Homo sapiens: one gene and its partner. The protein of the gene in region 2 interacts with the protein of the main gene of each other region in a pairwise test. Each region holds a gene or a part of one and is shown on either strand. Other genes may lie near its edges.

Region 1 (7,955 bases), on a different chromosome or scaffold from region 2:
AATGCATGCATTTGTCAGTTTCTAAAGAATGATCATTACCAAAAAAGGTTTCATAGTTCGTATATTTAATAGAAGTAATTATTTGCTTTTCATTTTTACAGTTCCAGTGTCAGTTGTTGCCCCTTTGTCATTAAAATAAAGATGAAAGCACTGATCATCAATAGGAAACCACAGCTTTAAAAACCCAAAGGGCTGGTGTGAACAGAGGTGGAAAATTAAAGCAAAGTGATATTGAAACAGCCCAATTCAACTTGCTTTAAGCATATGCAAATGAGATTCCACTGCTTAACTGCATCATTTATGTCGATAATATCAGCATCATCATTACAGGACTTGCAATTAAATTACATCATAATTAGCATTTCAAAGTGATTGGTTAAACTTTAAAACAAATACCCAATTCTGCTAATGAACAGTGCTAATTGACTTGTACATACTAAATAAAAGAGCTAGGTAAATATATGTTCTAGAAACAATTTTTAAAATTCATTGTTTTAGAGGAAACAAAAGGCAAAAATTAAAAACAGAAAATTGCCAGGGGGATTTGTATGCTGAAATTTAAAACATGTAGCATTTAATTTTATTGCACTAAAGAACCTATTAGATTCTAGACTCTAGAGAACAATGTAAATTATCTGCTTTCAGAATGGAGTTGGGCCAATTCTCTCTATCAACTAATCACAAACCTCATTATGCATAGGAGTATTAAATTATGAAGAAGCAGCATTCCACATTCCAGCACAAATCCCTATGAAATGTTAATAATATGCCCACAATAGCAGAATACCATGCCTTACTTGCCTTCATGAATAATAAAGTAAACAAATTATCTATCCACCTTTTACAAAGATTATTAGTATTTCAATGCATATAATTTTAGTGATCTTTAAAATAAAACGTGAGCATATTCTGTGAAATTTTACATGGGTTTAAAAAAAAAAGTCAAACAAGTTGTTTTCTAATAGAGCACCATATTTCTAAACAGATACCTGTAACCCTTCAATACCGTAATCTCTGTTAGGTATAGGACTCTGCTTTCCGTGAAAACCAACAGGCTAATCATTAAACCTCTCCACATATTCTCAAGTATACTTTGTTTCCAAACTTGTACAGCAGAAGGGCTGACTGTAAAGACAAATAAATATGCCTTTAAAAGGGCATTATGAATCAACTATAGATAATCAGATTTAAAGTCAGAACAGTTCAAAGATAAGGAACAATCGAAAATAAGAATGAAAGTTTTGTATTACACACACTATTGACGGTGAAAGTGATTCAAGATCTATTCTAAGCACACATTAAATAGAGTGCTTTTTTTTTTTTTTTTTTTGGTCGCGGAGGCTAGTAAACAAAAACCTGTCACTTAGGCTACAGTAAAGTGAAAATACATGGATGAAATTTAGGCGTTATTACCTGAAGGTGAAGAATGTCAAACTGGTCAGAGGAAAAAGCTGTTGGTGTTGCAGTAAGAACTTGCTCATGTCACTGGGAAAAGTGCAGCTATCTGTGTCATCCTCCGACTGTGTTTATACTGGCTTGCATCATAAACAAGCTCATCTTCCCTCATAGCTTGTTCATGCATACTTAAATCACCTTGCCCATTAAAAATGTCTCTCTTGACAATTATTCTATCATTTTCAGTTGTCATCAGGCAATTACTGTAGCCCTATGATGGGCCCAATAGGATCCCAGGTTCTGAGACGCTTTTTTGAAGCAGACAGAATGAAAAGTGCAGAAATGGTAATTTATAGCCCAGCCAAGCTACCTTTTTAACTGACACGAGTATTAAACTATCACACCTATTTGAAGAAATATAATGCAGTTTCTAAAAATTACTCATCAATTCACAATGTGTATTCCTGGAAATATATATATTTCTTCACAATCAGTGATTTGAAAAAGACCCACCAACCAATTTTTAATAAAATCATGAACATGCATATAAAACTACAAAGATCATCTGAGCCCTGACTCCTTTCATGTTTGTACAAGCTTAGCAAAAAGAGTTTCCCCTTTAGCACAAAATAAACATCTGCTCTACACAGCACGGCACAGAGAGGCACCCAAACGTGTGGTCAAACTCCCTTTTCAAAAACTTGCGCCCTGACACATACTGGGGCATTTACTAAAAGCAAGATGACATGGTTATTATCAAACCATGAAAGCAGGAACCCTGTCTTTATTCTTCTCAAGATCTTGCAGATTTTTTTTTAATACAAAAGAGGCCTTCTTTATTTGCTGTCTTTACTAGTGATAGCTTAAATCTACATTACGCTACTGACAGATCAAAAACAGTTCCTGTGTCTGGTCTCCCGGCTTTTCCCTCGCAAACAGATACAATGCTCTAGTTCATTTCAATGAGCTACAGTCTCAGAAAAAAAAAAAAGTAAAGCAATTGCCAAATCTACCAGTAAAGCAATCGTAAAATCCCACCCCTCTCTAAACTCTTACAGATATTCTCTTAGCAAAAAGTAACGTACCTTCTCTGGAAATGTTAGAGCAAACTTCCCGGTTTCAACTTCATAGGAGTTTGTTAAAGAGATGAAAAATTAGGAAGATTCAAAAAAGCCAGCACAGAAAACAGTATAAAAAGAAGGGAAAACTCAGAAGCTAGCTCACTGTCAAAGCCACCATCAGACAACTATTTACAGCAGTATTTACACTACTGTGAGTACACCTCTGCCCGATCACGTCCCAGACTGATGGCATTTTGTGCTGGTAATTAAAACAAATCAAGCAGCTCTGTGATTGTTTTGGCGTCCGTGGACAATCGTACACAAAATCAGCATTTAATCACTAGGGTATGTCTTTGGTGTGCAACGTGAGGGGTGACAAAGGTTCAAGACTGAGCCAGCATGCTTACCATAATCTTTCTAAAGTAAGTGCTTCATTTTTGTGTGTGTGTATGTGTGTGTGTGCATGTGTGTGAGTGTGTGAGTGTGTGTGTGAGAGAGAGAAAGACAGAGAGAGAGAGACAAAAGCACCAGTTTGAGTCTCTCAAGTCCTCGGTTAGCTTTCATGTCTGTGATAAATACACTTCTTGCTTCCCTTATTAGGACAAGCTTACCATTATACACTGCACTTTTGGTAAAGCTCCAGTGCTCTGCAATTTACAGCCAAAGGAAGTAGTTTACAAAAATAAGCAAACCCAAGACAAGCATTTCACAGCCACAACATCAGATAAGCCAGAAAGAAATAATCTTCAATGCACATCAAAACCACTTCACAATGACAATTTGTCCAAGCAGATGTTAATCAAGCTTCAGCCTTTGAACACTAGATACCATCAATTACTAACCTTAATTGAAATCACAGTTCTCCAGCTTCTCTGCCAGCATATTCAGAGGATGATGTATTAAGATATTTACAGTAAAGTAAACAATGCATAGTTGCAATGAAATGGAAAATTTTCAGCTAATGGTGTTTGTCAATCCTTTGTCAATTTTTCTGCCTGCCACAGATGTTTTCTTAGCTGTTTCACAAAAACAGGAATCAACTAGCAGAGAAGAAAGACTTTCTCTCCCCCAGGAAAAGAGTACAAAGCCAAGTCTGTACACAGCAGATGCAAAAGAAAGTCCATCTGCTACCAGCTCACAACACCACATGGAGTTTTAAGATTTTATACTGTAGGTAGCCTAGCAGGGTTTGTGTGGACCCCATAAGCATGAAAGGAAGAGAAATGGTAGCCTCAAACTGTTAAGGTAAAAACTACAGCTACAGAGACAGAATGAACAACTTACTGAAGCTGGTAAATCAAAGGTTTATTTGCAATAATTTTCCTCCTATTGCAAGAACTGACTAGTTTTTTAGGAGTTACACCCAAGACAGGAACGACACTGTCTTAGTTTTATGGCCTTTAACTCTGGGCAAGACAACTTGAACTCACAGGTCTCAGCTGAACACCATCGTGAGTGGACAAGCTTTAACAGCACCCCACCTACAACTTAATGTGAGACAAAACAACAGTTACTGAACAAAGCACTTCGAAGAGATCTTTAACCGGCCACCACTCCTGCCACTGACTTATCTTGTTTTAGTTTCTTCAGATGAGTAACATCTGCCACTACTTTTGTTGCACATTTAAATACTAAACAGAAGAGGGAAAGATGTATAAAGAAGTACTTAAAATAACTGCTTCTAATAGCCTTTAATACAGACATTTTGGGTAAGTAATTACAGCAAATTTCACATTTCACCTTCAACCCCTGAGGCTGCACTATTTCTCCACCTCCCCTGAAAGGAACTGAAAGCACTTATTCTTTAGCTCTGTGATACAAAACCGTTTAATATTCTGTTAGCAATTTTTTTCATTTTATAGTTAAATAATTCACTCATTAAAAGTATGTTTATATTGGTTTTTTTTTAAACCAAAATTTAAACACAGGAAACTCATGCAATAGGCAAGTACCTGTAAACATTTATTTTTAACATTTTTTTATCAGATTGTGAACAAAGCAAATGAAATTATATGAGCAATAGTAACTTATATTTTAAGGGAATTAAACAACTGCGAATATTCAAGTATCAGGAATATATTTTTTAAGTCTGCTTTGTTCATTTAAAAATTTTTTCTCCCAACTCTTCACAGTTTACAGGGCTTCCACATTTCAAAGAAACTGTGAATAATGTATACAATGACACAAATGACTTTATGTACTCCAGAGGAAATAAAGGATAGTTTCCATTATCACATCAGTCAAATAACATTTTCACACAAATCTGTTTACATTCACTAAAATGATAACATAATGCTCTTCAGCAATAGTGCCTTATCAACCTAGAAAGCAGTGTAGTAGCAATTAACATAAAATTTAAAAGCTTACACTCATTTTTACCAACAAAAGTTAAAAAAATTGATACCTCTGACATTCAAAAATATTGTTATAAATATGTAAATTCATTTTTTTAAGTAAAATATTTGCATCTCCTTTCCTCCTCCAGGCTTTTGAACTTCTGAGGTCAACAAGGACAAACAATACCACTAGTGTCTCTTTGCAAAAAGCTGGGTTTGCTGTCTGCAAGCAATGGTATCATTTCCATAGCAACCCCCTAACTATTAATTTTCAATTAAAGCAGACACAAAGCGGACAGCCTCAGGCTGGCAGACAGTGTCAAGAGCCCATCTCTGTAGGCAACAGTTTCACACAGCTATCAAGCCATAGGTGCCTCCCGCACAAAGCTGCATCGGGGTACGTCAAGTTTGGCTGGTTACAATGACATTAACCTTCAGTTCAGGCCTAAATAATTTATAGCAAGCTTCACTAAGCACATATAAAGGTGACAAAAACTAGGAAAAGAAATAATTAACTAATGCAAATACCTCCCAATAAACACAAACAATCTCACACACACACAAATGTATTAGGAAGAAGTGTATAACCATTTTGTCAAGTCATTTGTTCCTGAAGAGTCCCACATTCTTTACTATCAGCACACTACTCTTCGATATCACCTGGAAATAACTCCAGGTTATTAAAGAAAATGTTACACTCTGCATATTAGTTTTCACAATCAAATTTTGCTTAACATAAAAGACTATGACTACATTACATTACATAGTAAAACTCCTTTCATTTTATAACCCTATGGCAGGTACGTGATCAGGAAGATGCCACTAAGTAAAAAAATTTTAACTTATATCTTCCAAAATAATCATAGTAATTTTAAAAATAGATTGCTAACCAGACTGTGGTGTTTTCTTTCTATGCCCTTATTATGATTTCTTCCAATAGCAAATCTTTAAAAATATTTTTTAATTTCTTAAACATGAGATGACCTATTAGCAATTCCACTGAACTATAACACTGGTAATTTTGTACTATGACACCTGAGTTTGTTCAAAACAAGCACATTTCAAGGCATAACATAGCAAACATTTTGCTGTATTAAAATCTATTTCAAAAACACATTGAATACCTACTATGTGCCATGCACTGGCTCCATGAAAACTAATCTTGTTTTCCCCCAAAATAGTTATGGAAAAGAATGTATGAAAGGTCAAATTTCCCCCACACTGGATATGATCAGTTGTAAATCCCCTGGACAACTGTCAGCTTTGAGAAGACTTGGTTCTTCTCTCTAGTGCAGAGGGATCTATAAGCAAGACACATCGAATGAGCTAGGACACTGATTAAATACCAATCTTGAAAGCAGCAGAACAAACTAACAGGAAAAAATGCCCAGTGCTATCAAAACTGTAACATTGTAACAATAAAATCTAAACTAAATCGGTGGCATTTACTAAATTGCAGCCACCATTTCAAACAGATAAAAGATGAAATACATATTTTAACAAAACAGAAACATGGAAGAACTGCCTGCTTTGTTTTACAGCAGTACTGTGAAATTCCTTTATTCAAAAATGGTCAAGTCTCCATATTTTGAGCGTTATGCTTACCTTCTATTTAATCTCACATAAAAATGAATATAAACTACAGGGGAATTCTGTGCTTTTTCAAATGTGTGTCTGATTTGAGTTACAGGTGTATTTGTTGTCAGAAACTTGAGTGGGAAAAATTTCATTTCTATTTATTTTAATCAGCATTTTAATACATAACACAGGCTTGGGGCTAATCCCAATTTCCTTTCTATTAGTCTAAGCACATTCACATACCATTACAGTAATCCAAAATCGAAAGCCAGATAAAGAATATGGTATACCTTTGGCGATGTGAGGTTTCAAAACACAGTGTTCTTCTGTGGCCACCACATAAGTTTGGCTCCAGAGTTGCACTGAATCCCAATCTTAATACCTTACTCATGTGTCTTTTTTCCCATTGCCATTTATGTATGCATTTTATCTTCCTGTCCCAAACACTAAGTTCGCTGAGAGTGCAATGTTTTATGTTAGATACTCTATCTACTAGCATAACCTACATATAAAGTCTTGAAATATTTGTTGCCTAAATGAATAAATAAATCTAATACTTAATAGATGAAAGTGACAAGTCTTTTCTTTTTTTTTTTGGCTACTGCCACCTTCATCTACTATTTTCTACTGCCTACACTCCAACAGTATTATTGAGAGGGGTATTTCAGAGAAAGAATAGTTGAGAGATGCAAGTTCGGAAACTACCTGTGTATAGCTATAACATATCCAAGACATCTTTTCCAAAGGCGGTGGTAATTTTTTCTCAAGGAAACACATACTGTTTATTGAAAGTCAACTCTCCTCATCTATACACAGTGATCAATCTCACATGCACTGCCATACTTTTTATGGTAGACAATAGAAGAAATAAGTTTTGTTACATAAAACAAAAAGGAAAATATTTATTGAGCATCTACTACATCCAGGCATATTATGAATGTTTACATGCATCATATCTAATCCTTCCCTCCAGCCTGAAAAGCAGATAATATTACCTTTTTTACAGATGAAGACAGTGGGACTCCCATATTTTAAGTTCCTCAGGGTCAAACAATATCTATGTCTTTTTTGACTCAAATGCCTGTGTTCTTTCTGTTCTGCCACAATGTTTCCCTAATAAACTTTATTTACAGAATATCTTCTACGTACAGAGTACTCTGTTGGGTGTCATGGGAAAGTAGGAGAAGAATTCATAGTAAAATCCGATCTAGTCTCTGCCCTGAAAACTCTCAATCAAGTACTACAGATATGTATCTAACCCTGCCTAGAATATAGAGTATGAGGAATATGTGAAGAGAGTACAACGCCATTTAGTGGTGTGTGTTCTGAACTAGGAAAGATAATAGCTGAGAGAACAAAGAAGTCTATATGGCGAAGATCCCAGTATTGGAACTGCCCCCCAAATAACAGGCAGGATTTTTTTAAGAGGAAATATATTTGACAGTGCTCCAGAAAAAGTGAAGCAAAACTAAAGACATAATGATGAGTTCTATCCCAAGGCAGGCATGTGGTTCAGATAGATTGGAGCTTAGTCAGTCAGTGAGTAATGGAATACACTAGGGTGAGTTAGGTCTGAAACTGGAGG
Region 2 (7,000 bases):
AAAAGTCCAGAACCAAATGGATTCACAGCTGAATTCTATCAGACATTCAAAGAATTGGTAGCAATCCTACTGAAACTATTCCAAAAGATGGGAAAAAAAGGGAATCCTCTCTAAATCATTCTATGAAGCCAGTATTACCCTAATACCAAAACCAGGAAAGATCATAACAAAAAAAGAAAACTACAGACCAATATCCCTGATGAACATAAATGCAAAAATACTCAACAAAATACTAGCTAGCCAAATCCAACAGCATATCAAAAAGATAATACACCATGATCGAGTGCGTTTCATACCAGGGATGCAGGGATGGTTTAACATATGCAAGTCAACAAATGTGACACACCACATAAACAATCTAAAACAAAAATCATACGATCATCTCAATAGATGCAGAAAAAGCATCTATCAAAATCCAGCATTGCTTTATTATTAAAACCCTCAGCAAAATCAACATAGAAGGGACATACCTAAAGGTAATAAAAGCCACCTATGACAAACCTACAGCCAGTATTATACTGAAAGGGGAAAAGTTGAAAGCATTCCCCCTGAGAACTGGAACAAGACAAGGATACCCCGTTTCACATACCCAGTATCCAACATACTATTGAAGCCCTAGCCAGAGCAATCAGACAAGACAAAGGGCATCCAAATCAGTAAAGAGGAAGTCAAACGGTTGCTGTTCACTAATAATATGATCATATACCTAGAAAACCCTCAGGACTCATCCAAAAAGCTCTTAGATCTGATAAATGAATTCCGTAAAGTTTCAGGATACAAAAATCAATGTGCACAAATCAGTGGCACTGCTATACACCAACAGCAACCATGTAGAGAATCAAATCAAGAACTCAACCCCTTTTATGACAACTGCAAAAAAAATAAAATACTTAGGAGTATACCCAACCAAGGAGGTGAAAGATCTCTACAAGGAAAACTACAAAATACTGCTGAAAAAAACCACAGACAACACAAATGGGACACATCCCATGCTCATGGATGGGTAGAATCAGTATTGTGAAAATGACCATATACTGCCAAACGCATTCTACAAATGCAATGCCATTCCCATCGAAATACCGCCATCATTCTTCACAGAACTAGAAAAAAAATCCTAAAATTCATATGGAAAAGCAAAGAGCCCACATAGCCAAAGCAAGACTAAGCAAAAAGAACAAATCTGGCAGCAGTACATTACCTGACTTCAAACTACACTATAAGGTCATGGTCACCAAACAGCATGGTACTGGTATAAAAACAGGCATATAGACCAATGGAATAGAATAGAGAAGCCAGAAATAAAGCCAAATACTTACAGCCAACTGATCTTCAACAAAGCAAACAAAAATATCAAGGGGGAAAGGACACCCTATTCAACAAATGGTGCTGGGATAACTGACAAGCCACATATAGAAGAATGAAACTGGATTCTCATCTCTTATACAAAAAATCAAATCAAGATGGATCAAAGACTTAAATTGAAGACTTGAAACTATAAAAACTCTAGAGGACAACACTGAAAAATCCCTTCTAGACACTGGCTTAGGCAAAGATTTCATGACGAAGAACCCAAAAGCAAATGGAACAAAAACAAAGATAAGTAGGTGGAACTTAATTAAAATAGAGAGCTTCTGCACAACAAAAGGAACAGTCAGCAGAGTAAACAGTCAACCCACAGAGTGGGAGAAAATCTCCACAATCTATACAACTGAAAAAGGACTAATATCTAGAATATATAAGGAACTCAAATTAGCAAGAAAAAAAATCCCATCAAAAAGTGGGCCAAGGACATGAATAGACAATTCTCAAAAGAAGATATACAAATGGCCAACAAACATATGAAAAAATGCTCAACATCACTAATGATCAGGGAAATGCAAATCAAAACCACAATGCAATACCACCTTACTCCCGCAAGAATAAAAAAATAATAGATGTTGGCATGGATGCAGTGAAAAGGGAATACTTTCACACTGCTGGTGGGAATGTAAACTAGTACAACCACTGTGGAAAACAGTGTGAAGATTCCTTAAAAAACTCAAAAGTAGAACTACCATTTATTTGATCCAGCAAAACCACTACTGGGTATCTACCCAGAGGAAAAGAAGTCATTATATGAAAAGGACATTTGTACACACATGTTGATAGCAAAACAACTTGCAATTTCAACAATATGGAACCAGCCTAAATGCCTATCAACCAATGAGTGGATAAAGAAAATGTGATATATATACACATACACACACACACCATGGAATACTACTCAGCCATAAAAAGGAATGAAATAATGGCATTCACAGCAACCTGGATGGAGTTGGAGACCATAATTCTAAGTGAAGTAACTCAGAGATGGAAACCCAAACATCGTATGTTCTCACTTATAACTGGGAGCTAAGCTATGAGGACGCAAAGGTGTAAGAATGATACAACAGACTCTGGGGACTCAGGGGAAAGGGTGAGAGTGGGACAAGGGAGAAAAGACTATGCATTGGGTACAGTGTACGCTGCTTGGGTAATGGGTGCAACAAAATCTCAGAAATCACCACTCAAGAACTTATCCATGTAGCCAAACATCACCTGTTTCCCAACAACTATTGAAATAATTTTAAAAATTAAAAAAAAACTCCCAAAGACAGCTCCCAATAAACAAATGAAACGGAGTAGTGATCGAGTGACGAAAAGCCAACAGGCAGAGCAAAGAGTTGCTGAACACAAATAAAGGTCCCTGGCACCAAACTGTGCCTATGCAACTGGATCCTTCCAAAGATGAGCAAAGTAGCCACTCAAGACCCGTTTTCAAAATGTCTGCAATATAAGGAGAAAGCATCCACTGATCCAAAAAACAGTTAAATCAGGTTCAGAAAAGGCTTTAAAGAAAGAGCAGAGATGAATGGGCAGCAGTCTAAGGTAAGACTTTAGAGCAACTTCTCTTTCAATTACTGAGATGCTGGGTGTGACTGACCTCCCCCAACTCCCCGATAAAATATAGTGGAAAGAGCAGAGGATGCTAAATGTGAACCTAGGGGAAAGAACTCCAGTAGCCCTGGCCCTTCAATTCAGTCACTCTGCTCTGGGTGGAACACAACAAAACATCAAAGGGAGTTGTTTTCTAAGCGTCCTCACATACTGTGTACGAATGCACATGGTAACAGAGATAAACAGGGAAACTCGCCCTACTTCTATTCTCCTGATACTGGTCCAGCCGTGAATCTAATGGACTCAATCAGGAAAAGAAAAAATGAGAAAAGATACAGCAAACCACTCTGATTGTCCTGTAGATATCACATTATATGATTTAATAGCTAGCCTCTTTTATCATTTTCCTCACTTTAAGTTCCTAACAAAACTCTGAACGTCTTTAGGACGCAGCTTCTACATACTTTTTTTTGAAGAATCACATATGAGGGAAATTTCCTTACAAAGGACATTTCAGAACCTTAAGCAGCCAAGGTCTAACCAGGAGCAAGAGTGACACCTAGTGGGCACTGCAAGAACTCCACCTATACGGCAGCCACATTGGTGAGCCCTTTCCTCCTGGGGCCCTGGGTTTGTTTGCATTATCACCAAGGGCAAGTTCTCCCATTTTACTAACAGTGATTTGCAAATCTTCTCTTCCTCCTACCTTCTTGGCTGTTTAGTTCTTCCACTAAAGAGGGAACACTAACCAAGAAAATGAGTATAAGCCAACTCATGTTTTTGACTTAACGTGGTAAAAGACTATCAATAACAAACTAAACTAAAATAACAAACTAAAGTAGAATTGGGGCCAGGCACAGCGGTTCACACCTGTGATCCTGGCACTTTGGGAGGCCAAGGGAGACTTTGAGCCCAGTTCAAGACCAGCCTGGACAACATCGTGAAACCCCGTTTCTATAAAAAATTCAAAACTTAGCCGGTCCTGGTGGTGTGTGTCTGCAGTCCCATCTACTGGGGACGCTGAAATGGGAGAACTGTTTAAGCCCAGGAGGTCAATGCTGCAGTAAACCATGATCACACCACTACACTCCACTCTGGGTGACAGAGCGAGACCCTATCTCAAAAAATTAATAAATAAAGTAGAACTGGAAGAACTAGCTTTTCATTACACAGCTTATATTCACACTATTTTAAATCCCAACTAGCACAGGTGTATCTTAGAATCTTAGTATATTTAATTAAAAATAACAATAGTACCTTTCTTTCAAGGGATTTATTCATTCAACAAACACTTTCCCTTCTGCAATGGGCACGGTTTTAACTCATTTAATCCACCCAACAACCTTATAAGGTAGGCACTAGAATTAACTAGCCCCTTCTACATAGGAAGAAACTCGGGCACAGAGATGTTAACTAACTGCTAAAAGGTAACACGCCAGAGCACAGCTGGGTTAGGATCCTTATCCAGAATAGTCTGCTCCATTAAACTGGCCTGAAAGGTCCTGTCAGCCAGTTCTGGCCCAAGAATACTCCATGATAGGGAATATTCCGTTAGCCTCTTAGTCTCGCAATATCCTAAGAAGCTGATACCTCTCAAGACTGCCTCCTCCTTTTAATCCCCCTGTACGAGCCCTTGATACCTCCTCTAGCCTGGACCAGGACTCCAGCCTCAACCAGGACTCCAGCCTCATAACTCATCTCTACACTGCCCACCCATCCTTCACGCAGGGCCATCCTGGCTCTTATTCCATCATTCCCTGGCACAGCTGCATTAGAAGCTCCCCAAGGCTCTAAATGTTCATTTCACACAGCCTCTCCTCGCCTGGTGCTTCAGCAAGTAAGCATTAAACATTCAGGGTCTAGTGGCAGACAACTTAGGGTGCCCATCTTGGTGCTGTCTTTGGGCAAATGGCTTAACCTTTCTCAGCCAGTGCCCTCCTCTGTAACTACCTCATCAAAGTGGGAATCAAAGGAAATATTTTTAGACGTTTAGCACCGTGTTTAACTTATGTTATGCCAAGGCATGGATGAAAAACCACCTCTACACCATAGAACATCCTCACATTCTCCCAAAAAGAAACTTTTTGTGCACTCTAGACTCTTGGTATTCCTCTAGTAGAATTGAGCACATTCTATCTTATTTGTAGGCATGGCTTCTACACACACACACAGATTTCCCCAGGTTTACATCAATTCTCCTTGAGGACAGATTACAAGTCCTCCAGATCGAAGTATCCCCTGTAACACACAGCACAACATCTTGCCTTTGGCATGCATCCAATGAATGTGGATTAACTGAGTCATTTTCCCCGCTACTTAAGAAGAGAACCCACAAAAAAAGGCTGTAGTCCAGCTCCTGGAAGGAAAGGTTCTACCCAGAGACGATGGCCTTATTTCAAGGCAAGTCCCCTCTGAACTTCCATCAGCTTCAGGACTATCTTAACTCAAACAGGCTGTGAAATGCACAAGCAACAAAGCTGCTAGGTAAGCAACAATTGTTGGGGGAAGGGAATACGGCAAAGGAGGTGAAGTTAAAAACCCAAACATGGTATAAAGGGAATTCTTCTTTCCAACCAAGCCTTACAAAGCCCATGTCCATTGTGCCTTCTGTGGCCAGATGTAGGGGCCAGTTATGAAGGCCATGGGTGTGTATATGACTGGTGAACACCACTCATGTTACCTGGGATCATTTTGATAGCTGTATTCACTTCACTCCATTTGTGTACCCGGTCAAACTTCCAGTCCAAGATAAAATTCCCATTATCTGTCACCACAGGACCCTAGAAGATAATTTTCCACAGTGACCAAGGATGCAGATACAGGTAGGCAGAGAAGGACAGGAAAGTAGAGGGGATAACCAAAGACAAGTATGCATTTTAACCTGCTCCCACCTTATGCTTTCTAGGTGTGCTGTGAAGTGGTAATAAGCAGGAGCTTTGAAATCAGAAAGACTTAGATTGTAGTCTTTTTTTTTTTTTGAGAGAGAGAGAGAGGATACAAGCCTCTTAACAAATGTATCAAGCTATTTTTACTCACATGAGCTCCCACTATGACTATGTGACCATGTCACAATTATCACCACATTCCTATCTGATTTCTGGTTCATTGTTCTTACTTCCTTTAGTCCAAAATTCATTGTTCTTATCTGCTTCCTTAAGTTACTACTTGGCTAATAAGAAAAAGGGCAAGAAACAGAATCCAAAACACAATAAGAACACTAGCAGCAATGTGGCTTTCAAATAAGAACTCTGACAGGGTCAAGGTTGAACGACTTCTCCATTTTGTGCTACATTTCTTTCATGTGCCGACAATCTGAACGTCAGTCAGAGCACTGTACAACCACTAGGAACAGAACTACGGTTTTTTTTTAAAAGTCACAGAAACAGTGGGGACAAAATATATCAAAATAAAAATGTATCAGGGTAGGGTGACAGATCTTTTCGATATCCTCCAAAATGTTTACGTAGTTACATATGTAACTGTGGTTAGCTTCTGGATTGCTGTCTTTGCTTATTTGTTTACTTAAGTATAAAAAGAGGGAAAAGTTATGCGCAATCCACTTTAGAAGCTAAAGAGAAACACGAAAAATTTGGACCATCTGGAGAGTATTCCTTGGGAAGAGTTCACACACCCCAAGAAATTCTACTTCTTGTCACATTTAACCACAGAATGAGAGGAAAGAAGAGGGAGAAAAGAAGTTACACCATGGAACCTAAAAAACTTTCTGTTCCAAGCAGTTCCCAAAGCCAGGGTTTCACAGCTGCCAATCAGGGTGTTCCAGGCCTCAGGCACAAAGGTCAGATCACCTGTGGGATGTCAGAACCTGAGGCACAGAGAAAGAATCATTCCCCTATCTGTACAAAGGAGATGCACTGTATTAAGTGTGGTCTTGTCTACACGAGTTTGAATGCAGAAACTAACAGGCCAATTCTCCGAAAATAAACAAATACATCAATTAAAAATAAATAAAAGCCAATTGCCTGGTGGAAGCACACATGACCTAACTGCAACAGAAGGGAGGACACCACACTGAAAACCTGAGTGCACCCAGCACACCCCCGGCCCAACCAGGCCACTCACAGCC

Evidence for each region.
Region 1: the proteins of RPIA (region 2) and FOXP2 interact in a two-hybrid assay, tested with the Homo sapiens proteins (2 studies listed by BioGRID).

The regions. Positions count from the first base shown.
Region 1 is NC_000007.14:114,409,886-114,417,840, reverse strand, and holds the start of FOXP2 (forkhead box protein P2), read right to left. Parts: upstream 3,027-7,955; 5' UTR 2,481-3,026; intron 1-2,480. UniProt on the Homo sapiens protein: Transcriptional repressor that may play a role in the specification and differentiation of lung epithelium. May also play a role in developing neural, gastrointestinal and cardiovascular tissues.
Region 2 is NC_000002.12:88,736,673-88,743,672, reverse strand, and holds part of RPIA (ribose-5-phosphate isomerase), read right to left. Parts: coding exon 6,997-7,000; intron 5,697-6,996; coding exon 5,597-5,696; intron 1-5,596. UniProt on the Homo sapiens protein: Catalyzes the reversible conversion of ribose-5-phosphate to ribulose 5-phosphate and participates in the first step of the non-oxidative branch of the pentose phosphate pathway.